Linked DNA regions of Homo sapiens. The protein of the gene in region 2 purifies or fractionates together with the protein of the main gene of each other region. This does not show direct contact. Each region holds a gene or a part of one and is shown on either strand. Other genes may lie near its edges.

Region 1 (5,304 bases), on a different chromosome or scaffold from region 2:
GGTTCATGCCTGTAATCCCAGCACTTTGAGAGGCTGAGGCAGGCAAATCATCTGAGGACATGAGTTTGAGACCAGCACAGCCAACACAGTGAAACCCTGTCTCTACTAAAAATACAAAAATTAGCCGGCTGTGGTGGCGCACATCTGCAGTCCCAGCTACTAGGGAGGCTGAGCCAAGAGGATCGCTTGAACCTGGAAGGCGGAGGTTGCAGTGGGCTGAGATCATGCCACTGCACTCCAGCCTAGGCAATATAGAGTGAGACCCTGTCTCAAAACAAACAAACAAACAAACAAAACAAAAACCACGTTATACATATATCATACATATATTTAAACTGGGCTAACTATAATAGAGAAATTCTCCACTTTAATTAGTAGCTAAGCATTCAAGTTTCAACACAAGAAGAAAAGCATTTAATATCTGAAGGTTTGTACTTAGCAGTACAAATTCAGATACTTTCTTCTTCCCTCTATCTAAAAAAGCCCAATCTCTTCCTCTTATTCCCCAGTTACTTTATTTATTCCTTTACTAGGCTTTTTCAAAAACTTTCAATATCTTCGCTAATTCTTCTAACTATAAAGGGGAAACAAAGTTCCAATTAGGCACTCATCCTTTTTAATACTTTTGTTATGGATTATTCCCACATAAACTGGGCGACTAATCCATTCAAAGAGGCCATGCTTGCGTAAGTAGCTCCAGATGGATAGGTCTGTAGGAGGGAGGGTAAGGAGCTGATACCATCCCAAAGAGCAAGAGAATCGAAGTAAATATGGGTGGATAGTTAAGATTCACAAATAATGAACACCTAATAGAAGCATTAGGCCACAACATCTTACATATGTCAAGCTCACGTTAGAGTTAGCATGCTGGGAAGGAGGTTTCCAAGAAATGTAGATGCTTAACCAAACAAGTATAAGCTTACTCTGAGAGGATAAAGAAAAACTTCAAAGATCTACTTCCTATCTGCTGCAAAGAGGATGAACTCTGGTACTGATTTCATCACATGAATCTGTGAGGCCTGTCTCTTAAGAAGAGTGAATTCTGATTATACATATTCTCTTTCCCTCTTCATTCCAACTGCTGGACTATTTGCCAAAAATAAACATTGTTAAATCTGTTTCAAATGCAACACGAAGCCTGCTTTCTTCTACCCCTGTAAGATCTTATTCATAGGTTTCTCTAAGTTCTTTTAATAGTTTCTACAATCCCACAAAGAAGGTTTTTTGGGTCAGGAAAGAGTAAGGAGATTTTATTTCACAAGTAAAACAGTAATTTTTTTCCTTCACCAGTAAGATGGGAATAATATGAGTACTCATCTCAAATGGTTATTATGAGAACTAAATAATGCTTTTAAAGTGATTAGCACATTGTCTGACATTCAAGTGTTCAACGACTGTTGATGTACGTTACCTTCCTCTGATAATATTAACTAAATTTTAAAGGATAATGTCAGAAGAGTTAACATTCAATGCTAACTACTAAAATATTTTATCTTCAGTACCTGGCATGCATCCAATAAATGGTTTGTAACAATACATTCTTCCTGAGGTGAGTTATGGAACTAGGTTATTCAGCAGTAACTAGACACCTGTAACTCCACTCCAACCTCCTGCCACCTTCTTCGCAAACCTTAGGCTCACCTAATTTCCAAACAAACTTTTTCATAAACACCATTCAGGCAAGTTGCGACTAAAAATGCAAATCTAAATAAAAGGTACTTTATAGATATAATGTAACAGTTTACTTATAATTCATTTTTCTTATGGAACTTTGTACAGGGACAAATGCAGCAAGTAACTATTTGATACTTAGATTCTTCAATATTAAAAGTTCAATTACAATCTTTGAATTAAATAGACTTTACCAATTTTTTTCTTGTTTTGTTTTACTCTTTTAAGTATACAGAATAAAACTAAGATGTTTCTTTTTACTCTTTTAAGTATACAGAATAAAACTAAGATGACTGAAGGATACAGTTTCATTTAATACAAACCTTCTTGTACTCTATCCTAAATACTAGGAAATAGAAAACAATTCCATATATGTGTTATGAAACTCCAGATCTGTAGTATAAAACTGTAGCTAAAACTGCTTTCCAAAACTTACTGACAGCTAGGGCCCCACATGACCTAGATTCACCAAGCAGATATGCTGAATGAAGATTTGGAAGGAGAACATGGCCTACCTGGGTTGGGAGGACAGAGGACCAGGAACCAGGATGGTAGTAAAGGGTTTTGTTCATCTGGGGTTGTCAGTGGTGGCTAACACGGAGTGGGCTAGGGGAATTAAGGTAAATAGAACCTACAGTGCTAGGCTATTTAAAACAGGCAGCTCTGTAGCAGGCCAGTTCAAAGGTGTGGTTCTAGAAGTTTCTAGAAGTTGAAAATACTGTCTGTTCCTTTAGGTCTCCCAATGTGTCTGGAAACTATTGTATTCCCTCTAACAAATCTCTCAGTTTAAACCAACCGATTTAAATTCTGTTGTCGAAAACTAAGAACCCTGACCAATAAACTAGAAAAAAAGAACATTTCAATGAAAGTCAATAAACTTTTCTAGAGTTCACAAATATGCACAAGCTTTTGACATCTTCAGTAGAGTTTTACATCTGCTCTATTTTGATTCATGTGATAGGCACTGAAAATATATGTGAAATATATATTTAATACTGGTGACATGACAATTTATTCTAGGAATTCCTTTATAGATGATTGATCAATTTTCATTAATCAAGATGGTCTTTTTTCAACCCTCATGTATTAATAATATCAAAACAAAAAGGAAAGTCTAGGAGTTAGCCTTTAGCCTAATTTCAATTGACAAAAATAATTTCAATTACTAAAAAGCAGAATTAGAAAATACATGGGAAATGAATCAAATTTTGCTTTTTGTTAATTAAATAAATAATGAGTGCTCCAAAGTCACAAATCTTTATTTGTGATATTTAAACTTTAATCTGGATATTTAAATTAAACTTAAATCTGGATATTTAAACTTTAAAAAATTATAAAACCAACTTCAACTAAAAGAAGATTCCCTCAAAACATCAAAGTACATTGTTAAACTTATTTGGATATAAAATAATCACTGAATCAAAATGAACTGAAACAACTGTAAAGACATGAAGTCTTGTGTATAATATATCGATCTGAACCAAATATTTAAAAGAATCAGGCAGAAGACTCAATGTTAACATGACTTATAATCTATTTTACAGATTCTGACAATACAATTTTCCATAAAAATGTAAACTTCTGAGGACATAGTTTTAAAAACCATATATTTTTAAAATAATATAAATATGTTAATACCACCTATATAAACTCATACTATAAGGAGCAGATTTTATGAACAATTTGAGTCTCCTGACAGCAGTAAATGTTATCTTAAAAAAATAAACATTTATAAATTATTTGAGATGAAAAATTTTTTATATTTTAATAATCTAACGTTTCTGGCTACATTGCAGGTATTTTCACATATATCTCATGAATCCATGTAATGAGTCATCGAAACAGAATTATCCCCATTTTTCTTAAAGCAACTGAATAGTCTGAAGTACAGATTACTTAGGTAACTTAACAACGAAATAAGTGGTAGAACCACATAGGAACCCAGATCTGCCTAACTTTTCCAAAGGATTTTTTCTATTAGACTATTAAATTATTATTAGATTTTTGAAAGGTAACTCAATAGCAGTTCAGTAATTTTTTCATACATAAATATAAAACATAAAATATTCTACCAAATAAACATATCTTCCATCTAAATTAAATGTAAAGAGTTAAAGGGAGGAATAGGGTATGAACTTTGGTCTTTGAAGATAAAGTTGAGTGCTCTTGACTAACCACGTGATAGGAAATAATGAAGACTCTATAAAGAAAAATCATTATGTAAACAGGGTTTCCTAATACTTTTTCTACTGAATTAAACTTTTTTGAAGTTTACTGACCTATTAACCAGATCTGTTCAATGGCCTAGCAAAGGCAATGGTAGACTGTCAGAGGCAATAGTCATTTTCATTTGTCACAAGCCTGGTAATTAAACTCATTAGCCTGCCAATCAACTGCACTGCTAGTGAAATTTGTAAAAGCAGAATGAAATAGCTTACCGTGCACATGGATGTCCTTGTGATTTTCAGGGTAAAATCTGATGAAAATTCCAAATCTGAGATAGACGTCGTATGGCAATCTATATGCTACCCATTAAAAAGAAGTGAAGAAAGAGCTTAGTAAAAATAGTCCAAAAAAAAAAAACAAAAAATAAAACAAAAACAACCCAGACAAACATTACTTCTTTTATGCACAAATGATTATTGGAAACCAAAGTTTTGCAAACTTTACTCACATGCTAATTTTTGGAATTATTTATAAGTTTAAGGAGTACTAGTACTATCATCTTGTTAATTTTTTCTTAAATTCATTTAACTTAGGCTCCTTGTAAACAATAGTATTTATCAAATCATAGTGCTAATGTGCTAAAGTTTTCCTGACACACTAAAATAAATACTTTCAAATAAAAAATGTTTTCCTGTGTTTCACCTAACATCATTTTGCCTACTGTGTATGGTACACCCACCACAACTGCTATAAAATATGTGTGATAACAGTCAATACATTTATAGGAACTGCCAACTTGAAAACACATGCTAATGAAAAGAAAGTTGTTTTAAAATTCATGTCTATAATTGAAGATAAGTTTTGTTAGATATGAGGAGAAACCACACAATTCAAACAAAACAGCAAAACTATGGAGATTTCGATCCAGAGAAAAAATAGCGAAATATCTTTATTTTCCCATTCTGCCCTTTTTCAAATCCTTCTCCATTATACTTTGGAGAAGGGATGGAATCACCTTTCAACTACAGCAGTCTAACCAGAAGTGTGCTGTAAAGACCGTCATCAGCTGAGTAGATCCAGCCAGGAGTAGATCATAACCCAGTGAATGCAATTAATGTAACCACACATCTGAGACACTATTGAAAACAATTTGAGAAAACATTTTAACAGTACAATGTGTTTGTGGGAGGACTGGAAAATACAGAACAAACTATTTACTTAAATAAATGTTAAAAAAAAAAAAAGAGTACATACACTTTTTAACACCTTATTTTCAGGTCTAAATTTTTCTGTCTCAACTATTTATTCATGGCAGTTTTTGCATTAAGCAGAGATCACTAGAGAGAGAAATCAGCAACCTCCACCAACTCTCCTCTTTCTGCTCAACTTTAAGGCTTAGTTGGTTATAACTGTACACTCCTATCCTGAGCCAAAGAGCCCAAATAAACTCTTTATTCTCACTGTACC
Region 2 (5,304 bases):
GGATGGTCTAATACCCTGAAACCACAGAGACCCAGAGTTGGAGTGCCAGCTTAGTCACCCAGGGGCATTCCACCCCGGACCCCAGACCATCTCTGTGTAAACACACATGGTATACATAATCAGGCCAGAAAGGTGCCCACATGTGGCCCAGGAAACACCGTCATGGCACACAGGTGCCCGAGACAGCAATCAGCGTTCTAAGTCTCTTTCTAGCTCAATTCCTTCCAACTCATTTTTCTCAATACTTGAGCTGAAAAAAAGCTTCACAGAGGAACTGTGCACTGATGCCATGGCAACTGAGGCATTTATGGGGCACCTACTGTGTGCACCAAGAGAGATGGAAACCTCGGAGGCCCACCTCTAGGGTCTCTTAGTGTCCAGAGGGAAATAAGCCAATCAACCAATACACTAAATTTATGCCACAAAAGTGTCCATGATGTATTATAGCCAAATGTGCAACCCTTTTTTCTTAATATTCTTTCATACTGAGGTACTCTTTAAACACAAGAAAATGCTTTAAGTATACAGTTGGATGAGTTTTGACAAATGCATACACCTGTGTGAGTGCCACTCCAATAAGACAGCAAACATCCCCTCACCCCAGAAAGTCCCACTATTCCTTTCAGTCAACTGCTCTGATTTCTATCACCTAGGTTGGTTTTGCCTGTTCTGGAACTTCATGCATATGGAATTCTACCTTATGGGCTCTTCTGTGTCAGGCTGTTTTTACTCAACACGATGTTTGAGATTTTTACCTTTTATTTGTTGGCGAGTGTGATCTAAGCTCCCTGTGTAATGCACTGTGAATACAAGTCACCCATCTGGGGACGTGTCCTTAATTTGATCATAAAAGGCGAGGACTGGAAGGGACCTGAAGTCCAGCTATCTCTGGGGACCATAGACCCCAAGGGATCCTTAGGGAGTTGTTATCTCTCCTTCCCTCGGACTTCCTGAAACAGAAGCTCAGCAATTAGACATCTAATAGGCACCTAGGCTCCGCAAGCAAGTGGGGGCTTTCCTTGGGTTTCCAGTTTTGCTGGCAACTAGCTGTCGCTTTATTTAACTGGCAGTCTGTGCTGCATCTGACCCAGCACAGTGGTGAGGCTGTCGCTGCAAATGGCCGGCTGAGCTCCCGTGTCTTCTTCTGACCACGTCTATGAGCAGAACATGAGGAACAGAGGCTGGGGTGGGTGGTCTCTGGCCCTCAGCCTCCTTGTACCCCACACCAGCTGGTGTCCCTTGAGTGGAGCCCTGGGCTCAGTACAGAATGAATGCGGGGCTGGGGTTCTTCCTAGGAGCATGCCCAGAGGCAGCAGAGCTGCGCAGCCAAGGGCGGGCACCTTGGCTCTGAGGGGCTTGTCTGGGCCACTTTCCTGCGCTTGGCCCAGGTCGATGAGGCTGGGGCTTTGATGGCCAGGCAGGGTGCACTGATTGGGCTTGGCTGGTCCCACCCATGGTCTGATTTTTCCCCCATCTTAGATCATTTGGGGTACCTCCCAGCCAAGCCTGAGTGTAGGGGGATGGCTAATGTAGCTTGAGTACCCTGAGAACTGATTTGGTGCCTGAAGCCAGATTACCTCTCTCTGCTCTGCCAACTCTTTGAAAGCGGCCTCTTGCCTTGCACAGGCCTTCGAGGAATCAATACCTACCAGAACGGCATTTACCTTTCTCCTGGTGCCAGGAGAAGCCTCTCTCCTGTTCAAAATCCATTCCCAGAAACCACGGGGGCTCCCTGGGCAAGGGTAAGGGTGAAGTCCTGTCTGAGCTCTGCCCACTTCCCCGTGTGACCTTGAGCCTATGGGGCAGCCAGCACCAGCCTTGGCCACCCAGGGCTGTTAGGAGGCCAAGGAAAGCCCTTGGTGATGATGACAGGGGTTTCTGAGTGGACAAGAGACCCTCCTGGGCACACAGAGATGCTGCGAGAGCAGCTCCATCCCTCCACTCTGCTAATACCTCTGTGGGGACATGACTTTCCATTGCCTCCCTAGGAGATTTAAACAGAAGAAGAAACTGAAGAGGAGAGAAAGAACTGAAGCCTCAGTGCATAGACATTCTCTCCTGACAACAGGCCCAGTCACATGATCTGGGCATTCACCTCTCTGAATTCTGTGCATCCTCTGTGGAGGGGTACCAGTCCCACCTGTTCCAGGCAGTCTCGCCTGGCTGCTCTGGGCCACAATGACCTCCCACCAGGGAAGCTCAGCCCCTAAGTTCAACCTTACATTCTTCCTGTCCTGGGCGGATCTCTCCCTGGCCCTCTGAGGCGAACCTAGGAGGTCTTAAGAATTTTCACTGTCCTTTTCTGCCCCTCCAGAATAGTAAACAGAGTGAGGAATGGACAAGAGAGGTTGAGAAACTGTTCTATCAGACTCTGGCTTCGCAAATCACAACTAAATTTTATGTTGGACTTGGGGCATACCAGGTACCCCTTGGGGAAATGAAGTTGCAGGGGGAGGCTGTGGGTACCAAGCTCCCCAGCCCATGGCTGTGGCTCTTCAGGGAAGACAAGTGACGGCAGGCGGGGTGGAGAAGGTAAGATAAGTGTTAAAGAATTGATGTCAGATGGCCTCAGTGTTGTGCCAGGGGTGGTGCCTACCTCCACAAAGCCTGGTCCTGGGACTGTCCCCACACTGGGGCTCCCAGGCTCTGAGAATTGATGTGGGGTCTCTATAAATAGCGTCATTCCATATTGATCATCTTAAAAAGACACGGTATGTTCTAGGCCCACGGATAGGAGAGTTGTGTCTAAAAATAGTCTCATCCCCAGGAACCGCTGCCAGCCTGAGGCGAGTGGTGTAAGCTGTGCATAGCCGAATGGGCAGTCTGAAGGGGTGGGTCAGAAACAGAGGCACAGAACCTCTCCATCCCTACCCTATTCCCTCTGCTCCAACCCACAGAGTTTGCCCCTGCCTCAGGGCCTTTGCACTTGCAGTTCCCTCTGTAACATTCTTTCCCTAGACCTCCTCGGGCTTGGTTCTTTCATGTTATTCAGGTCTCAGTTCAGTCTCCTCCTTCAAGGGGCTTTCCCTGCCCAGCCAGTCTAGAGTCACCCCCACGTCTCTCCATCACATTGTCCTGTTGTATTTCCTTCATAGCACTAGCCCCTATCTCAAATTATCTTCTGTATGGATTGGTTTAATGGTATCTCCCTACTTGTATGTAAACTTCATAAGAACAATTGTTATAGCTTGTACACCTTCTAGAACCTTCCATGGCCCAAAGGCATGAACTCTGCCTCAGACCCCTGCATCAGGGCAGCCTGGGCTGGCAGCAGGCTGTGGGGCTCTCCCGTCCCAGGCTTCCCCTGCAGCCCTGGCCAGCCCTGTCGTGGGTCTGCTCCCCACGGGGCCCAGCCTCTGTCCACAGGCTACTCACTGGCCCTGCTTTTTCCTCTCTCTGCCTTCTTCATGTATTTAGCCGCAGGGCTTTTACTCCAGCTCCCTTCTCCCAATCCTATCACCCTGGATACCTGCCCTAGACAACTTAATCTTGTCCCTAAATACGGCTTTCTGGAACACCCTTCTCTCTGCAGAGCAAGGGCTCCCTTCCCTTTCTGCCTGCCACCCCCAGCAGGAATCACATTTCCTGCCATCAAAATCTCCCTCCCAGAGATTCACAGAAAGAGTTATTCCCTCTACCCAGGCCTTCCTGACTGCCCCCTGAACAAACAGTAACCACTACACACTTCACTGGTACGATCTTAACTCACAGACCTGCAGCCCTCACTGAGGGAAAGGCCTTCCCCCAGGCTCCTGCATGGCGATGTGCTGCACGGACACGCATGCCCACAGTGTCCACTCCAGGCTCTCCCGACAGCCCTCCCTGACCCCACCCCTCGCCAGCTCCCTTCTATCTCTCTCCTCCCTCTTCAACCATCAAACTCTTTGAAAGAGCTGTCTATACATGCTGTCTCCACGTCCTCACCTCCAGCTCGCTTCTCAACCCACTCCAAACTGGCTTCCATTCCCACCAAGTCACTCATTCATTCATTCAACAAGAACCTGTCTGTACTGGGCCCTACATTCTGCGGGCGCTGAGTGGAGTTTCTCCTACCAAGGTCACCAGCACCCTCACCATGGCTCGATCTAATGGACACTTCTTTTTAAATTATTCATTCTTTTTCTATCTATCCATGAACTTCTGAGAATGCACCTTAAGTCTCTCAGCAGAAAGAAACAGGGCACTTTCCCTCCCCCCGAGCAGGGCACTCTCCTTGCCTTCTGCAGCGCCTCCTACTCCTGGCTTTCCTCCTACCTCTCTGGCTGCTCCTTTTCAGCCTTCTCTGCAGACTTCTCCTGCTTTGATGGTTGGAGTATTTCTGGGCTCCTGACTCAGCCCCCTTCCTTCTTACCCTCTACACCACGTTAGAATCACCTGGGTGCTTCCAAAACTCCCGATGCCCAGGCCTCATCCCAGGGTCAAATGAATTAGCATGTCTAGGGCTGGAGCCTGAGCATAGGTATTTTTACTTAAAGCTTTCCAAGTGATGCTAATGTCACCAGGAGTGAGAACCCCAGGTCTGCACTCTCGCTGGGCAATCTAACTCAGTGCCACATCTCCAATGACCAACCTCTGCTGAAAGCTCTAAGTTTCCATTTCCAGCCCAGATCTCCATCCTGAACATACTTCCTACCTGGACCCTTCCCTCCAACTACCTTCTGGATGTCAGCATCTGTCCCTGGAAGTACAACAGGTTCAAATCAGAACCATGAAACATCTGTCACTTTTCCTTTGCTCTTCATCAAGCTTGCCAACCCAAATTTAACTTGCCCATTCTTCTTCTCATGGTGCGCCAGGGGGCAGCACACCTCACTTAGTGAGACATTGGAGGTGGGGAATGGGAGAGCAGCATGTCACTTGACAGAGAAGGAAGATGGGACACCATAAGTTCTATTACCTGTGGTAAGCTGCCAGTCGCCTCTCCTTCAATGGAAAGACTTTGCATGGCACCCATGGTCTGAGCTGGGGAGGTGGTATAGTACACAGCAGATATTGACACTTGGGCTCAAACCCAAGTTCTGCTACTTAGAAAATGTGACGGTGTGCAACTATTTAACCTTTCTGGACCACCAGTTTCACCATCTGCAAAACGGCCATTATGATGGTCCCTACCTCTAGGGTTGATGCAAGGATTCAGTGAGATTAACCGTATAAAGCGCTTAGTGCCATGCCTGGCCTGCAGAAAGCACTCAGTGAATGTTAGCTATTTTTAGTAACATTACTGAGGATAAATTCCCAATTCCTGAGCAGAGCTCACAAGGGCCCCCGTGACTGTGACCTTGGCTTTAACTCCGCTCTTCTCTT

Evidence for each region.
Region 1: the proteins of SCN5A (region 2) and PRMT3 purify together in Homo sapiens (co-immunoprecipitation; one study listed by IntAct). This does not show direct contact.

What each region holds. Positions count from the first base shown.
Region 1 is NC_000011.10:20,463,352-20,468,655, reverse strand, and holds part of PRMT3 (protein arginine N-methyltransferase 3), read right to left. Parts: intron 4,197-5,304; coding exon 4,110-4,196; intron 1-4,109. UniProt on the Homo sapiens protein: Protein-arginine N-methyltransferase that catalyzes both the monomethylation and asymmetric dimethylation of the guanidino nitrogens of arginine residues in target proteins, and therefore falls into the group of type I methyltransferases.
Region 2 is NC_000003.12:38,641,978-38,647,281, forward strand, and holds part of SCN5A (sodium channel protein type 5 subunit alpha), read right to left. Parts: intron 1-5,304. UniProt on the Homo sapiens protein: Pore-forming subunit of Nav1.5, a voltage-gated sodium (Nav) channel that directly mediates the depolarizing phase of action potentials in excitable membranes.